2 separate regions of the Homo sapiens genome follow, and region 1 is linked to region 2. Evidence: fine-mapped expression QTL. A gene starts in region 2. The other region holds a variant in brackets. All regions are shown on one strand. Distances are between the middles of the regions.

Region 1 (2,915 bases), 270 kb before region 2:
TCACAATTACTGGGTATTCTGTTTTATTTTTTCAGTCTTTTCTTCTCTTTGTTATTCAGTTTTGCAAATTTCTATTCTCACATCCTCAGGCTCAGAGGTTTTTTTCTTAGCCATGTTCAGTCTACTCATGAGCCCATCATAGATTCTTCATTTCTGTAACAGTGATTTTAATCTCTAACATTTCTTTTTAATTCTTAGAATTCCCTCCTCTCTGTTTACATTATCTATCTGTTCTTGCATGTTGTCTCTTTTTCCATTAAAGCCCTCAGCATATTAATCATATTTAAAATGTTTTTCAGTTGGTTGGGCATGGTGGCTCATGCCTGTAATCCCAGCACTTTGGGAGGCCAAGGCAGATGGATCATCTAAGGTCAGGAGTTAAGACCAGCCTGGCCAACATGGTAAAGCCCTGTCTCTGCTAAAAATAACAAAAATTAGCGGAGTCTTTAGCAGTTTGTCAATTACAGTTCCAGTTTTCTTCCCCCAGCACCTCCCAGGAGGTTCCTGCTGGTGGGTTTCTGCTCTGATGTTATGATACTCTGTATCTATCTGTTTCTCCAATTTTGTGGGCAGCAGCTTGCCATATAACCTCACTTCTCCACTGGACATGAGAAGAGCTGATTTTTCAGTTCATCAAGCTTTTTACTTGTTGTTACGACCGAGTGGTGACTTCTAAGCTCCTTTCATGCAGGACTAGAAACCGGAAGTCAAATATTTTTAATAGATAATGATGCAAAATGTATCATAGGAGCCAGCTTCCTGCAGCTGTTTCCCCTCCTCAGCTAGCAGCCACCCTTCCCTAGGTGCTTTTTCCCCTTTCTAGATAAAGCCCTGGTGGGATTTAGAGGTTACACCAACCTTTTGCAGACATTTCACTCCATTATCTTCTTTGATCCATTCAAAAAGCCATGTGAACTGGGTGTTAGGATCCCATTTCACAGAAGAGAAAATTGGCATTTTAGGGGTAAACAACTTCCCCAAGGTCACACAGCCAGGACACAATTCCAAGAGGGAAAAGGAGGAAAAAAAGATAGAACCCTAGCATGGGAGTTTTCTCCCACGGAGATGACGTGGGGATACAGATTTCAGAGCAACAACCTTTTGCATTTATAGCCACACCCAAAGGACATCTGGGTCCATGAATTTTTCATTCAGCTCTATGCAAAGCGCTATGACTTGCCCTGGAAACAGAGGTTCCTGGGTAAGAGCCCCTGCCTTCTAGAGCCTCACTAGCCCAAGTGTGGTCCACAGACCAGCAGCATCAGCAGAACCTGGAGCCTATTAGAAATGCAGACTGTCAGTTCCCACCCAGACCTCTTGAATCAGAAGCTGCATTTTAATAAGATC[CA/C]AAAAAAAAAAAAAAAAAAAAACCCAAGGTGATTTGGCTGCTACTTAAAGTCTGAAAAGCATTGCTAGGAGACAGTCCAAACTTGATTTTACATATGGTAAGAGAAAACAAGTGTTTTCCTGGAACGGAAGCTAAGGATTGGAAAAGCCCAGAAAAAGAGAGATTGGATATAAACAAGGATCGTAGGAGGCTTCATGAAGGAGGGGTTTTGAAGTTGAGCCTTGAAGCAGAAAAGTGCATATGAACAAAAGTACAGAGATGGGAAGTGTTTAGTGTTTGGGGAAAGGCAAATGGCCTCATGTGACAAGAGGGAGAGAGCGGGAGGTGAAATTAAGAATAATAGGAGCAAATGGTCAAGGATGTTTTCTGTATGGATAATAAGGCAGCTGGAATCCTCTTTGTGAGAGGTCATGAGCTGGTGACCTGTGGGCCAACACAGTGTTGTAAAAATAATTTGGATTGTAGTTGTGTCCAAAATATTTTCAAAATGTTAAAAATTTAATTATCATAAAAATACATAGTGAGCATTTTCCAGGTTTTAATTAACTAATCAGAGAACCAGCAAGATCACCAAGGTGGTTCAAAAAAGGACAGGAAAAACTAGACAAAAGGAACTCTAAAATAAGATTGAGATCCAAACTGGTTAATAACCTACAGGGCAATAAAACTACATTCTTTGGGGTTATCTTCTCTACCAGACGATAATCGTTTACAGCTTTACTGGACAAAAAAAAAAAAAAATCATTGACAATTTATTCGTTTTCTGTAATTTAACATCCAACTTTACAGAGTTATAAAATGTCAGACCCCTAATTAATCACAAACAGTAAACAGCAGGTGAAACAATCTTGTGTTTCCCTGGAGTTAGACAATGCCCTGAACAGAAAAGACAGTGAGTGGTTAAGGGCAGTGATTCTCAAACCTAAGCTTAAAGCAAAATTCCCTGAAGGGCTCATTACAACACAGAATGCTGATCTCCAACCTCAGAGTTTCTGATTTAGTACATCTGGGGCAGACTGATGATTTGTTCTCAGTTGATGCAGATGCTATTTACCAGGGAAAACCCTTTGAGAACCACTGATCTTAGATGCCACTGAATGAAAGAAACTGCAGTCATTCTTTTGCCTCATTTCCAAATTTTGGATATTTTTTCTGAACAGTTGCCAAATGTTCAAAAATCAGAGAAAAAAAATTCCTGATTGTGGCTCTTATGAAAAATTAGAAAGTCAGACAATAGTAAGTCTAAATTCTCCCGTGGTGACAATTGCTTAAAGCTCAATATCAGTTGCTCCTTTTTTTTTTCACTAACCCTAACCTACATCACTCATTTATTTTGCTGGCATTTGATTTTGATATCCCTGCAAAACATGGTGGAAACACAATGCAGAATTTGGAGGAGGAACATGAGTGCAGCTGGTTAACACCTATCTCTGTATCACATCTGATCAGCTCAGGCACCCAGGGCTGGCTTCCCAGAAGTACAACCCAGGCAGTTGCACAGGGCATCATTCTCAGGAGAGCCTCACACTTGATTTAATGCTCTGGTATTGCCATTTTGCAATTCTTA
Region 2 (2,915 bases):
GTTAGGTGGGTGGCACAAATCAACTGTTTTTCTCACCACACTTATTGCATAATCATTAAAGCCCCAAAGGAAGAGGACTGCTTAAATTCTTAAACTTTATTTCCTGCTGGCCTAGAAGACCTTACTTAACCACTGTTATACCTGATATACTCATTTTAAAAGTTAAGGTTTTCCTTGTGCAAGTAAGAGACTAAAGTTATTTCAGTCTTAAAGGAAATCAACTACGTACTGGTCGTTTTACCTGCTTTTAAAAGCAGATCAACAGGATATAAACCTGGGTTGTTTTTTTCCTTAAGAGGACATTTCTTAATGACCTCTTAATTTAATCGAATGGAACAAGTAGCACACCAAAAATGATGTGTAGTGGAAAAAGAAACAGAAGAAAAAATCGCAAGAAGTCATATAGTGATCTACTTTCACTAGTGTTAGAAAAGCAAAGGATGAGTGTCTTCTTGAGTAACTTCAGGCTGACCACAATAGCCACTTGTTACACTACTACCACCCACTCCAACACTTCAGGTTCATTAGGAATTAAGAGGAGGCAAGGAAGATAAAAGACACACCCCAACCAGGTCTAAGGTCTCTCCGTACTACACCTTGAGGGACACAGGGAACCAGTGCATTGTGCCCCCCACCCCCAAACCTTCCCTGCTCCCCAGGAGGCAAAGCCCACGGCCTGGGGCCAAGACAGTCCTCCGGCCAGGGCAGTGACCCAGCGCCAAACAACCCGCCCCTTATGACCAAAGCGTCGGCACCCAGGGGTTGGAATAGGGGAAGGGACGGGAAGGCCTGGAAAGGAGAGAAGGGTGGCCAAGAGGATGTTTTTTTTTAAAACGAGGGAGGGTCCCTCCCCAGCCTCGCCAGCGGGGATGAGGCCCGGGGCCGGGAAGGAGCGGGCCGCCGCCATGATGGGGCTGGCAGAGCCAGGGGGCGTGACGTGGGCAACCCCTAGCCCAAGGCCAGCTCCTTCTCCCCCTCCCCCCTCCCCCACGTGGGCCTCGGCCACAACTGCCCCCCGATACTCACGCTTTGTCCACCAGCTCGCGCACCTTCCACATGTTCAACATCGTGCCCCGCGCGGGACGGTCCGCCGCCTCCCTCTCCTGCTCCCCACGGACCCCGGAACACTTCCGTACCGGGGCAGTTCCAGGCCGGGGTCACCGCCGCCCGCCGCCTCGAACTCCCCCAGTCAGCTCCTTCCTTTGCCACAGCAGCGGCGCCGCCGGTGACACGTCGAGACGCGGCAGCACAGGCGCTGCGTGGAGCGGAAGTGTCCGACTTTCCGCCGCTGCGCGCGGGGCACGCCGGGACTTGTAGTTTTCCCTGAGTGCCGAGCTCGGCCGGTTGAGTTGGGAGAGCTGAGAGGTTGAGTTGGGAGAGCTGAGAGGAGTTGGGATGGTTTCTCTTAAGCTTTCCCAGTCCCCGGCCCCAGACCTACCGAGCCAGAAATTTTGGAGGTGGGGCCCAGCGATCTGTGCTTTTACAAATCCTCTAGGTGATTCTGATCACGCTCAAGTTTCAGAACCACTGGTGCAGGGTCTAGTCACACTCAAACACTTTTCAAATGTAAGGCAGTATTACTATGTTATTAGTAATGATTATACAGAAGTATGATTGGCATACGCATTCCTCATCGACAGACACATCGCTGTATTTATTTCCCAATGCCCAAGTACACTTAGATCTCTAGGCCTTAGTTTCCACCCCTGTAAAATTGAAGAACTTGTATTCTAAATCCTTTTCCGCTCTAATTCTATGATACAATGTTTTATATTTAGACAACTACCTGAAATCCTTGTTAAATGCTTTACTATAAACCTCAGAAACTCAGTTCACACTCCACGGGAAACTAAAAAGCCAACATTATATATACACGCACACATACACATACATATGACAGGTTTGTGTTTTTTAAGGATAAATATGCACATTGCTTCCATTGCTTTGTTGCAATGGTTGTCATCACTTCCTTCTCTACTTACTCATTTTTATCAATGCTCATGTTAAAGCTACAAGCAACCTTAAGTTTCATTTGATCCATCTGCTGAAATTTTACAGTTCTTTTCATTCTACAAATATTTATTGAGCATCTTGTATGTTCCAGAAGTGGGGAATATAGTTAAAGACCCAGCTCTCTTGGAATTCAAACGTAATTGGAAGAAACATATAATAATCAAGGAAACATTTAAGATAATTGCATATAGTGTAATTGCTTAGCGGGTTCTTTCTGCCCACTTTACAGATAAAGTCAATTCACTGCGACCAAGTCATTGCAGTGAAGAGTTTGACATGAGGCTGGCCATGCCACTTGAGAGACAGAGTTATTACTCAAATCAATCTTCCTGAACATTTGGAAGCTAGAGTTTTTCAAAGATAGTTTGGTGAGCAGAGGGTTAGGGCATGGGTGCTGCTGATTGGTTAGGGATGCAATCAGAGGAGTATGGAAAATGGTTCTCCTTTGCTGAATCGGCTTCTTGATGGAGGGCCAGCAGAGGAGTGGCTGGTCTGGGTGGGGTCATCCGTTTGTCAGAAATGCAAAAGCCTGAAAAGACGTCTTAAAAGGCCAATCTTAGGTTCTACAATAGTTCATTACAGGCCAGGCACAGTGGCTCACGCCTGTTATCCCAGCATTTTGGGAGGCTGGGAGGCCAAGGCAGGAGGATCACTTGAGCCCAGGAGTTTGAGACCAGCCTGGGCAGCAAAGTGAGATCCCCCTGCCAGCCCAGTCTTTAAAAAAAAAAAAAAAAAAAAAAAAAAAGCCAGGCGTTGGGGCACACTCTTGTGAGGCCAGCTACTTAGGAGGTTGAAATGGAAGGATCCCTCGAAAGGATCAAATAAAGACTCCAATTCACAAAGAAGTGAAATTGATGGTTGCTAGTCATGAAGCTAGGTAACAATAATCCCAAATAAACAAC

Alleles and levels. Positions count from the first base shown, and alleles are read on the strand shown. Sizes are in standard deviations (SD) of each study's normalised expression.
For the expression in iPS cells of the gene that starts at base 1,242 in region 2, allele C in region 1 goes with a lower level than allele CA (large effect, 1.5 SD a copy in HipSci).

Evidence for each region. PIP is the estimated chance that this variant, and not a neighbour inherited with it, causes the effect.
Region 1: its variant is fine-mapped to the expression of CLINT1 in iPS cells (HipSci, PIP 0.95).

Annotation. Positions count from the first base shown.
Region 1 is chr5:157,592,087-157,595,001 of GRCh38, forward strand. No RefSeq gene overlaps it. Among named protein-coding and RNA genes, the nearest start is that of ADAM19, 18 kb to the left of the region's middle. RefSeq lists a silencer at 2,317-2,416. The variant CA/C (reference allele first, on the strand shown) is at 1,348.
Region 2 is chr5:157,857,904-157,860,818 of GRCh38, forward strand. CLINT1 (clathrin interactor 1) reads right to left here and starts at 1,242. Exons shown (of 12, transcript NM_014666.4): 1 at 1,027-1,242. The coding sequence starts at 1,067. RefSeq lists enhancers at 872-1,453, 1,291-1,530.